Linked DNA regions of Homo sapiens: regions 1, 2 and 4 are each linked to region 3. The links come from fine-mapping of genetic effects on gene expression. A gene starts in region 3. Each other region holds a variant in brackets. All regions are shown on one strand. Distances are from middle to middle. Region 1 overlaps CHFR (checkpoint with forkhead and ring finger domains). Region 2 overlaps POLE (DNA polymerase epsilon, catalytic subunit). Region 3 holds the start of POLE (DNA polymerase epsilon, catalytic subunit). Region 4 overlaps FBRSL1 (fibrosin like 1).

Evidence for each region. PIP is the estimated chance that this variant, and not a neighbour inherited with it, causes the effect.
Region 1: its variant is fine-mapped to the expression of POLE in whole blood (INTERVAL, PIP above 0.99).
Region 2: its variant is fine-mapped to the expression of POLE in whole blood (TOPMed, PIP 0.96).
Region 4: its variant is fine-mapped to the expression of POLE in whole blood (INTERVAL, PIP 0.97).

Annotation. Positions count from the first base shown.
Region 1 is chr12:132,876,661-132,879,399 of GRCh38, forward strand. CHFR (checkpoint with forkhead and ring finger domains) reads right to left here. Exons shown (of 18, transcript NM_001161346.2): 3 at 895-994. Among named protein-coding and RNA genes, the nearest start is that of CHFR, 9.6 kb to the right of the region's middle. The variant AT/A (reference allele first, on the strand shown) is at 1,144.
Region 2 is chr12:132,656,000-132,658,738 of GRCh38, forward strand. It overlaps POLE (DNA polymerase epsilon, catalytic subunit), which reads right to left. Exons shown (of 49, transcript NM_006231.4): 27 at 1,869-1,971; 28 at 1,350-1,430; 29 at 1,137-1,259. Among named protein-coding and RNA genes, the nearest start is that of POLE, 30 kb to the right of the region's middle. The variant A/G (reference allele first, on the strand shown) is at 1,435.
Region 3 is chr12:132,685,736-132,688,474 of GRCh38, forward strand. POLE (DNA polymerase epsilon, catalytic subunit) reads right to left here and starts at 1,607. Exons shown (of 49, transcript NM_006231.4): 1 at 1,519-1,607. The coding sequence starts at 1,580. It overlaps PXMP2 (peroxisomal membrane protein 2), which reads left to right and starts at 1,852. Exons shown (of 5, transcript NM_018663.3): 1 at 1,852-2,057. The coding sequence starts at 1,936. RefSeq lists a silencer at 1,058-2,367.
Region 4 is chr12:132,569,130-132,571,629 of GRCh38, forward strand. FBRSL1 (fibrosin like 1) reads left to right here. Exons shown (of 19, transcript NM_001367871.1): 7 at 797-1,112; 8 at 1,206-1,411; 9 at 1,939-2,102. Among named protein-coding and RNA genes, the nearest start is that of MIR6763, 12 kb to the right of the region's middle. The variant C/T (reference allele first, on the strand shown) is at 1,172.

The DNA of each region.
Region 1 (2,739 bases), 190 kb after region 3:
ACTTAATTTGAATACATTCAAGAAGGGTCATAGACACCAAAGTGTCACTAAGTGTCCCATCCTGGAAACCAGGAAATACATCTTCTAATACCTTGGGAGCCTAATTAACTACAGTCATGCCCCAGATAATAAACTTTTGTTTCGTTTTGTTTTGAGATGGAGTTTCACTCGTTTCCCAGGCTGGAGTGCAGTGGTGCCATCTCAGCTCACCACAATCTCCGACTCCCGGGTTCAAGTGATTCTCCTGTCTCAGCCTCCCGAGTAGCTGGGATTACAGGCGCATGCCACAACGCCCGGCTAATTTTTATATTTTTAAGAGAGACAGGGTTTCTCCATGTTGGCCAGGCTGGGCTTGAGCTCCTGACCTCAGGTGATCCAACTGCCTCAGCCTCCCAAAGTGCTGGGATTACAGGTGTGAGCCACCGCGCCCGGGCTGATAATAATGTTTTTTTCAACAGACGCATATACGATAGGAGTCCCACAAGATTAAAATATCATATTTTTACTGCACCTGTTCTGTGTTTAGATAAATACTCTTACCATTGTGTTACAACTGCCTATAGCATTCAGTACAGTAGCACGCTGTATAGGTTGATAGCCTAGGAGCAATCGGCTATACCATATAGCCTAGGTATGTAGTAGGCTACACCATCTAGGTTTGTTTAAGTATACTCCATGATGTTTGCAAGATGATCAAATTGTCTGACACATTTCTCAGACTGGATCCCTGTTGCTAAGGGACACATGACTGTGCTGTTATAAAAATGAGCCGCTGTTATCACACTAAAGACAGCATTTCTTCTCCTCCTCAGCCGTGGCACACAGCACAGAGCACGAAGTCAGGCTTCTTAAGCTACAAGAAGAAACACCAAAAGAAGCTCAGAACATACTCACCTGGTATCTTCCAGTGTCACCTGACCTGATTTTTCATCCACTACAATTCTACAGTGATCTCCAGAGACCAGTTTATTGCTGGGGAAGGAAAGGTCGCAACCTAAAAAAGAGAGGGTGGGTCAACACGGGATATGATCGTGGTAACTGTGAACACTACTGCACTTTGTTTACCAAAGTATGTGGTTCCAACTCAGGATCCCCATTGTACATATGTAAAAAAAAACACTTGACCAAGAAAGACATAAAGAA[AT/A]TTTTTTTTTTTTCTTGAGACGGAGTCTCGCTCTGTCGCCCAGGCTGGAGTGCAGTGGCACCATCTCGGCTCACTGCAAGCTCCGCCTCCCAGGTTCACACCATTCTCCTGCCTCAGCCTCCAGAGTAGCTGGGACTGCAGGCGCCCGCCATCACGCCTGGCTAATTTTTTGTGTTTTTAGTAGAGACGGGGTTTCACCATGTTAGCCAGGATGGTCTCGATCTTTTGACCTCATGATCTGCCCACCTTGGCCTCCCAAAGTGCTGAGATTACAGGCGTGAGCCACCGCGCCCGGCCCATCCTGAACCTTTCTGAATCCCCACCCTCTCAAAGACACCCATCAATACCTCCAGTTACACACAGCCTCTTAAATGGCAATTTTACAGCCAGGCGCAGTGGCTCATACTTGTAAACCCAGCACTTTGAGAAGCTGAGGTGAATGGATCACGAGGTCAGGAGTTCGAGACCAGCCTGGCCAACACAGTGAAACCCCATATCTACTAAAAATACAAAAATTAGCTGGGCATGGTGGCGGTTGCCTATAATCCCAGCTACTTGGGAGGCTGAGGCAGGAGAATCGCATGAACCCAGGAGGCAGAGGTTGCAGTGAGCTGAGATCGCGCCACTGCACTCCAGCCTTGGCGACAGAGCTAGACTCCAACTGGAAATAAAAAAAAAAAAAAGCAATTTTACAATATGCTTGCATACACAGCTAACCTGATGAGTATTATTAGAACTTTAAAAAAACTCAGGGGGTTGGCTAGGTCCGGTGGCTCACACCGAGGCGGGCAGATCACAAGGTCAGGAGATCGAGACCATCCTGGCTAACACAGTGAAACCCCATCTCTACTAAAAATACAAAAAATTAGCCGGGCGTGGTGGCGGGCGCCTTGTAATCCCAGCTACTCAGGAGGATGAGGCAGGAGAATGGCGAGAACCCGGGAGGAGGAGCTTGCAGTGAGCCGATATGGCGCCACTGCACTCCAGCCTGGGTGACAGAGCAAGACTCTGTCTCAAAAAAAAAAAAAGAAAAAAAAAAACTCAGGGGCTTAAGTAATTCTTCAGTATCTTAATTTAGTCCTTAATTTCTTTTCTGTGTAAACTTAGGTTTCATAAATCAACATAAAATTGAAGCAATGACAGTCACAGAAAAAGTGACTGAGCCAACTGTGATAGGCATTTGTTTTTTTTTTTGTTTTTGTTTGTTTTTTTTTTTTTGAGATGGAGTCTCGCACTGTCGCCCAGGCTGGAGTGCAGTGGCACCATCTCGGCTCACCACAACCTCCACCTCCCAGGTTCAAGCCATTCTCCTGCCTCAGCCTCCTGAGCAGCTGGGACTACAGGCATGCGCCACCATACCCAGCTAATTTTTTGTATTTTTAGTAGAGACGGGGTTTCACCATGCTGGTCTTGAACTCCTGACCTCTTGATCCACCCGCCTCAGCCTCCCAAAGTGTTGGGATTACAGGCTTGAGCCACCGCACCTGGCCTGCGATAGGCATTTGTACACGTATAAGAAACTGCATCTTATATACAGGGATGCATCTATAGCTGAATACAGTAATTCTGACACTTTGGGATTTTTTTTTTCTTTT
Region 2 (2,739 bases), 30 kb before region 3:
TAAAAATTTAAAAAAAAAATTAAAAAAATAAAAATTAGCTAGGCATGGTGGTGCGTGCCTATAATCCCAGCTACACTAGAGGCTGAGGCAGAAAAAAATTAAAAAAATAAAAATTAGCTAGGCATGGTGGTGTGTGCCTATAATCCCAGCTACACTAGAGGCTGAGGCAGGAGAACTGCTTAAACCCAGGAGGCAGAAGCTGCAGTGAGCCAAACCCAGGAGGCAGAAGCTGCATTGTGCCACTGCACTCCTGCCTGGGCAATAGAGCAAGACTCCGTCTTGGGGGGCAGGGGAAAGAATACATATATAACTCTTACAAATAAGACAGTTAAATTTTAAAATCCAATCCATCTCAGAACCTTTTTCTTTTTTTTTTTTTGAGACGGAGTCTCGCTCTGTCGCCCAGGGGAGTGCAGTGGCGTGATCTCGGCTCACTGCAAGCTCCGCCTCCCGGGTTCACGCTGTTCTCCTGCCTCAGCCTCCCGAGTAGCTAGGACTACAGGCGCCCACCACTACGCCTGGCTAATTTTTTGTATTTTTAGTAGAGATGGGGTTTCACTGTGTTAGCCAGGATTGTCTCCATCTCCTGACCTTGTGGTCTGCCCACCTAGGCCTCCCAAAGTGCTGGGATTACAGGTGTGAGCCACCGCACCTGGTCAAAGAACCTTGTTCTTGTCATGTGAGTTTGTATACTGCTCTGATTTATAGCTTACTTTTAATTTTCAGCATTTAAGAATTTTCCTTTTGCTCTTCTGACTTTCACTGTACCTTTTATTACACTGTGTCCTGTGTTTCTAAGTGTTTCCATAGGGAAGATATTCATTTCACATTCAGAAAACTGGGGCTTCAAGAGACAGTGATTTGCCCAAGGCACTGAGTCTAAGTAGTGCACCCTAATATTTTCACATAAGGAGACAGTTCCTTGCCCTCACCTCAGCCTCACAATGGTGTCCTATTAACAAAAGAGTGACACTCAGAGTTAGAGAGTAAAGTGCCAATGGGCACATTTTCAGAAAAAGTCCATTTTCGATGCTTGAACAGAAGCTTCACTACAGCACACACAGCAGCGCAAGAAGCCTGGAGTCCTGTGTGTCACAAGGATCCCGCCCAGCCCAGCCTTGGGGCCCCACCGTCACCTGTCTCCTGCCCTCCAGGGTGAAGAGCTCACTGATCTTCTTCTGCTTGTAGACATCATTCTTCTCCAGCAGTTTTTTGTGCAGCCAGTCGGGGTGTTTGACACGTGGCACTGGGTTCTTTACCTGTGTGAGGCCAACACCCATCAGAGAGAGACCCTTGTCTAACTGCACAGTTTTTAGCCCCACAGCCCGTGCCACTGACCCCGCCCTTACCTGCTGCAGGGCCGCAGGGATGGTGATGATCTTCTGGATGGCGCTTCCCAGCCGCTCAATGTAGTAGTCCCAATCCAGAATCTGC[A/G]TGTGCAGGAAACGGGCACAGAGAACAGCAGGTGGCAGCAGCCAAGAGTGGGGCTCACTTCATGCTGAGCACAGGGCTAACCACTGTGTCTTATTTAATCCTCTCAGAAACTCTATGATGAAAGGTGCCCATTGCACAACAGAGGACACCAAGGCAGGGAGCTTCACTGACTCCTCTAGATCACAGAGCTAGTAGGTGGCTGAGCCAACACCCCTGGCCTTAGTCCATCCAATAGAACAGCTAAAGGGCCCCAGGCACTTCATGTTTTCAGTTTTGCCCTAAAAGGTTATTAGGTGCTCACCTATTACTTATCAGAAAGGAGGAAGTCAAGAGTGAAGACGCCAGACAAAAAACATAATCCAACTCAGACATATTCTGCTCTGTCTAGCTTTCCTTGTAAACTTTTAAGAGTAGAGAACGCAACTGGCACTCACTGCTCGAATATCAAAGTCTTGAAGGGAAGAGCTCTTGAGCCATTTCCGGAGAAAGTGCTTCCTCACCGTGGGCTCTGCTTGGAAAATGGCAAGTGGGATGGCCCTGGGTAAGGAAGACAGGCACACAGCTCAGTAACAGTGAAAATCACCCAAAATCTGATCCTAACTCTTATCAAATGAACATGGAAATAAGGACGTGTAACAGCTGTTCACAAACATCAATGTATACATCTGCGTGCATATGTATGCACAAACATGCCTACAGGTTCCTCGGGGAGTAACACGTGCGTATGTGTAAACACGTGCGTGTGTGCACGTAAACATGTCTACATGTTCCTCACAGCGTAACCATGGGCATGCATATACATAAACACATGCGTGTGCGTAGACATGTCTGCGTTTCTCATTGAGTAACCACGTGCATGCGTACAGGCAAACACGTGCATGTTCGTAACTATGTCTACATGTTTCTCACGGCATAACCATGTGCATGCACATACATAAACGCATGCGTGCGTAAACATGTCTACGTTTCTGAGTAACCACGCGCATGCGTATAGGCAAAGACATGCGTGTGTGCGTAAACATGTCTGCGTTTCTGAGTAACCACGTGCATGCATACAGGCAAACGTGCACGTTCATAACCATGTCTACATGTTCCTTGCTGAGTAACACACAGAAGACTCAGGCTGCTTTCTAGAAAAAACGAGCCTGTTTTCATGTCACTAGCAAAGCAACTGGCAACCGTCAGTGCTTCCCTTTCACTGGAGGAAACATCTGTGGTGAATACTGCAAACATAAGGAGACCTAAAGAAGACACGCACACTATGATCCACTCGGCTCCATCAAGCTTCAACACTTGGCCACTCTG
Region 3 (2,739 bases):
CTCTCTAGGGCTTGCCTGATATGGACAGACAGCGATGAGCACAACAGCAGTTAGGGATCCTTACCACTTGGTTTCTCCTCTGGGAAGAATTTTGTTCAGCTAAGTGTCTGTAAAAAGCTTCACGTTCTCACACGTTTTTTCTATTTTTTTTTTTTTGAGACAGAGTTTCATTCTTTGTTGCCCAGCCTGGAGTGCAATGGCGCGATCTCGGTTCACCGCAACCTCCGCCTGCCGCGTTCAAGTGATTCTCCTGCCTCAGCCTCCTGCGTAGCTGGGATTACAGGCATGCGCCACCACGCCCCGCTAATTTTGTATTTTTTTAGTGGAGACGGGATTTCTCCATGTTGGTCAGGCTGGTCTCGAACTCCTGACCTCAGGTGATCCTCCTGCCTCGGCCTCCCAAAGTGCTGGGATTACAGGTGTGAGCCACCGCGCCGGGCCTCATCCGTTTTCTGCTTATGGCAGGCCAGTCCTCCGGTCATGTTTACCGTTTGCTCTGGCCACCAAGCAGCCGCGTCTTATCCTTGCTCTATTTTTTTTGAGACTGGGTCTGGCTCCGTCGCCCAGGCTGGAGTGCGGTGGCGCGATCCCGGCTCACAGCAGCCTTGACCTGCCGGGCTCAGGTGAACCTCCGGCTCGGATTCGGGAGTATTAATAGCTGGGACCTCGGGCGCGCACCACCAGCCTGTCTAATTTTTCTTGTTTTTACAAGAGAAGGGCCGGGCGCGGAGTCTCACGTCTGTAATCCCAGCACTTTGGAAGGCCGAGGCGGGCGGATCACCTGAGGTCAGGAGTTCGAGACCAGCCTGGCCAACATGGTGAAACCCGGTCTCTACTAAAAATACAAAAACTAGCCGGGCCTGGTGGCGGGCGCCTGTAATTCCAGCTACTCGGGAGGCTGAGGCAGCGGGATCGCTTGAACCCGGGAAGCAGAGGTTGCAGTGAGCCGAGATCGCGCCACTGCACTCCAGCCTGGGCGACAGAGCGGGACTCCCTGCCCAAAAAAATAAAACAGAGGAGACGAGGTCTCTCTCTGTAGCCCAGGCTGATCTAGAACAGGATCCTGGGCTCCAGCGATCCGCCCGCCTCGGCCTCCCCCAGCGCTAGGCCCCCAGGCAGGGTCCCCGGCCCCGCCCCTCCCCGCACCCTCCCCAGCCGCGCGTCCACCCCGCAGGGCCTGGCCCGGGTCCCGCCGCTCTCATCGCCCCCGCCGCGCGGCAGGTCCCAAACGCAGCTGCGCGGAAGGCGAGGCCCGAAAAACCTCAGAAAGAGCCGAGCAGGGAAAGGCCGCGCGGCCCGCCTCGTTTCCCCGCAAAGAAGCCGCGCCCGTAGCGCCTCCGCCCGCCCCGAGCCCCTCCGTCGGCGGTCGGGGCGCGCCGCCCTACCCCAGTCAGGCGCGGCGAGTGCGGGCGGCTGCGGGAACCGGGCCTCCCTCCCGCCTCGGCGGCGCCAGCCGAGGACGGCCCCATGGCACCCTCCGGAGGGCCGGCCCGAGAGCCTCAGGAGGGCGCCCCTCACCTGCTGGCCTCGCCATCCGCGCCTGGGTCCGCGCGCCGCCGCCCGCCGCTCCTCAGAGACATGGAGCCGTTGGCTACCACCTCTGCTTCAGGGGAGAAATTTGGCGCGCTCCCACCCAGACTCGCGAGAGCCGGAAATGCCGCCGTCCATCAAGAGGCGCGCTCCGCCCCTCCCCCGCCCCCCGAGGCGCTCCAATTGGCGCCGGCGCCCGGCGGGGGAGGTGGCCGGCAGGGACCGGGGAAAAGTGTGTGGTAGGCGCGCGCGGCGCACCGTGGGGTTGGGACCGGGCGGCGCTGCGGGCCGCGGTGGGGCCGGAAATGTCAGGCGGTCCCCACTCCGCTCTCGGCGCCTCGGGCTCCGCGCCCGGCCAGCCTGAGGTGGGGTCGGTGCCCCCGGCGGCACGGCGCTGGGGAGGCGATGGCGCCGGCCGCGTCCAGGCTGCGGGCCGAAGCCGGGCTCGGGGCGCTGCCGCGGCGGGCGCTCGCCCAGTACCTGCTCTTCCTGCGGCTCTACCCGGTGCTCACCAAGGCGGCCACCAGGTGAGCGGGGGCGCGGGAATCGGACGCCGCCCCGGCCCCAGGTCGGCCGCAGCGGCGCGGGGCCTGGACGGGAGCGCCGGGCCGGGACCAGGCTGGGGGCGCGCCCGGGTCAGAACCCCCGGAGCGGGCGCCCTCCGACCCGGCGCTGAACTTCCCGCGGCGACACCCGCGTCCGCAGTCAGCGATTGTGAGGCGCCTTGCGGATCCCGCCCTCCCAGCGCGTGGAGGGCCCGCCCAGACCCGGGGGTCGGCGCTGAGGTTCCACCCAAGGACCCAACAGGGGCCCCGCGCGCCCGGGGAAGCCACGGCAAGGGGAGCGGGTCCGCAGGCGCGGGTGAAGACAGGGCGAGGGGAGCGGGTCTGCGGGGCGCGGGTGAAGACAGGGCGAGGGGAGCGGGTCTGCGGGGCGCGGGTGAAGACAGGGCGAGGGGAGCGGGTCTTGGGGGCGCGGGTGAAGACAGGGCGAGGGGAGCGGGTCTGCGGGGCGCGGGTGAAGACAGGGCCAGGGGAGCGGGTCTGCGGGGCACGGGTGAAGACAGGGCCAGGGGAGCGGGTCCTCATGGAGCGTGTGGAGACAGGGCCAAGGGAGCGAGTCTGCGGGGCGCGGGTGAAGACAGCGCCAGGGGAGCGGGTCTTGGGGGCGCGGGTAAAGACAGGGCCAGGGGAGCGGGTCCTCATGGCG
Region 4 (2,500 bases), 120 kb before region 3:
GGACGCTGCCCTCTCCTGACTCCTGGGGACTTGATCTGAGACCTGCCCGAAGGGGCCTGAAAAGGAGGGTTTGGGGTGTGCGGGGGTGGGGGGGGCAGGCCCCAGGGGCTCAGAGGGGCCCACAGGACCTGCGGGGGACGTGCCTAGGTGGGCAGAAGGGTGGCCAGGGAGCAGGGCTGAGGGTGGCGGGTGACGGGCAGTCACAGTAGGGGGAAGCCTCCCACCCAGTCCCTGCCCAAGTTTCCAGGAAGTGGTCAAGCCTTCCACCAGGGGGTTCCAGAAAGAAAAGGTGGTTACAGCTGTGGGCGCTGCTGTTGGGGTGGGGCAGACCCATGCCCTGGGCTGAGGGCACATCCAGGGGCCGTGAACATGAGGCCTAGGTACACAGGCCCTAGCTCCCGTGTTCAAATCCAGCTCCCCTCTTGGGCCAAGTCCTTGATGTATCTTGGTTTTGTCTGTTAAATGAGGTCATAGCAGCCCCTGTCCAGGGACTGACTCTTGCAGGGCCTGTCCTGTCCCTGCCAGTGATGCGTCTTCGGGCAGGTGGGCTACCCACCCCCACCCCTGGCCACGGCCCAGGCTCCCAAGCCAGCTCCCTCCGCCGGGCGGGGCCTGGAGCCTCGGGTGAGATCCAGCTAGCTGTGTGGCCTCCGTGCCTGCCTCCTCATCTGAAATGGGGGCATAGCCGGAGCCCAGACATAGCCTGGGCACCGGGCACGTACCAGGGCTCCCTGGGCCACAGGAGGGGCAGGGACGAGGCCCTGCTGGTCTGAACGCAGCCACCCTCTCTCTGCAGGCCCAGCGCTTGAGAAGTCGGAGGCCAAGGCCGGGCCGGTGCCCAAGGTGTCAGGCCTGGAGCGCAGCCGCGAGCTCAGCGCCGAGAGCTTCCTGCCCACTGCCAGCCCCGCGCCCCATGCCGCGCCCTGCCCGGGGCCCCCGCCCGGCTCCCGCGCCAATCCCTTGGTGAAGAAGGAACCCCCCGCCCCGCACCGCCACACCCCGCAGCCGCCACCCCCGCAGCCCCGCGGCCTGCTCCCGACACACGTGCCTGCATCCCTGGGCGCCTTCGCGGGCCACAGCCAGGCGGCAGCCAACGGCCTGCACGGCCTCAGGTGGGGTCCCCGCGGGGGACGGGGCCTGTGTGGTCTCAGGATGGGGGCTCTGCAGGGGT[C/T]GGGCTGGCAGGCACTGAGCCCCGTGTCCCGCAGCAGGAGCAGCAGCGCCCCCCTGGGCCTGGGGAAGCACGTGTCGCTGTCGCCACACGGGCCGGGCCCCCACCTGTCTACCTCACACCTGGCGCTCCGGTCCCAGGCGCAGCACCAGCTCCACGCGGCCATGTTTGCCGCACCCCCGACACTGCCCCCGCCCCCGGCGCTGCCGGCCAGCAGCCTGGTCCTCCCAGGACACCCGGCCGGTAGGTGTCTCGGCCACAATCTCGCCCAGGGCAGGGGTTGGGGGGTGCGGGGACACGGCCACCGGGGAGGGGCGCACAGCCTGGCCCTCCACCTGCTGTGGTCTCTGCGGACCCTGCGCGCCTCTCTGAGTGGTTCCCCCAGGTGTGCCTTTCCCCAGGAGTCTCTGCTGGGCCACAGGCCATCTGTGTGCGGGGACAGGCAGGACACGTGCCCATGCACGTACAGACGCGTGTTCACACTGAGACGGGCGCACGGGCCTCCCCTCCTGGGGCCAGGCCTCCCCCGCAGCCTGCTGGGTCCTGAGCCCTGGGAGGAGGGGGCCGCACATCAAGCAGGCGCCATCCCAGTGGAACCCCGACCGCGAAGGCTTCCTCCCTCGGCCCCCAGGCGCTTCCTGAGGCTCCGAGTCAGCCCGGCCCAGGCTGGGGACGGCCCCGTGTCCCGGGATGGGACCAGGATGCTGGCCTGCGGGTGGCTGGACCCTGGCTCCCGGGGAGGGGCTCACCGTGTTCTCTCTTGCCTCTAGATGCCAGCCTGGCGGTCTCATTCAGCCAGCCAATCATGTATTGCCAGCCTCATTCGGGAATTCTGATTGGTACTTGGTCACAGGCTCCTCTCTTACCTGCACCCCTGGGCCCGCACGTGGCGAGCGGCCACCCCGGCTTGGCCTGCCGACCCCGGGAGTGCCAGGTGACTATCCGCCTCGCCCCGCCGGGAGCCCGCGGCCAACGTGCCTCTCTGTCTCTCTCTCTTTTTCTCTTGTAGATCACGAGCTGCTCAGGCAAGAGCTGAACACGCGGTTTCTGGTGCAGAGCGCCGAGCGGCCTGGCGCCTCCCTGGGCCCGGGGGCTCTGCTGCGGGCGGAGTTCCATCAGCACCAGCACACACACCAGCACACGCACCAACACACACACCAGCACCAACACACATTCGCCCCCTTCCCCGCAGGGCTGCCCCCGACGCCGCCCGCCGCACCCCCGCCGGTGCGTAGGCCCGCGTGCTGGCAGGGGGCGGGGGCGGGCGTGGGGCGGGGACACGCAGCAGGCACACACAGACACACGCTCGCACACACACCAGCCCAGGAGGAG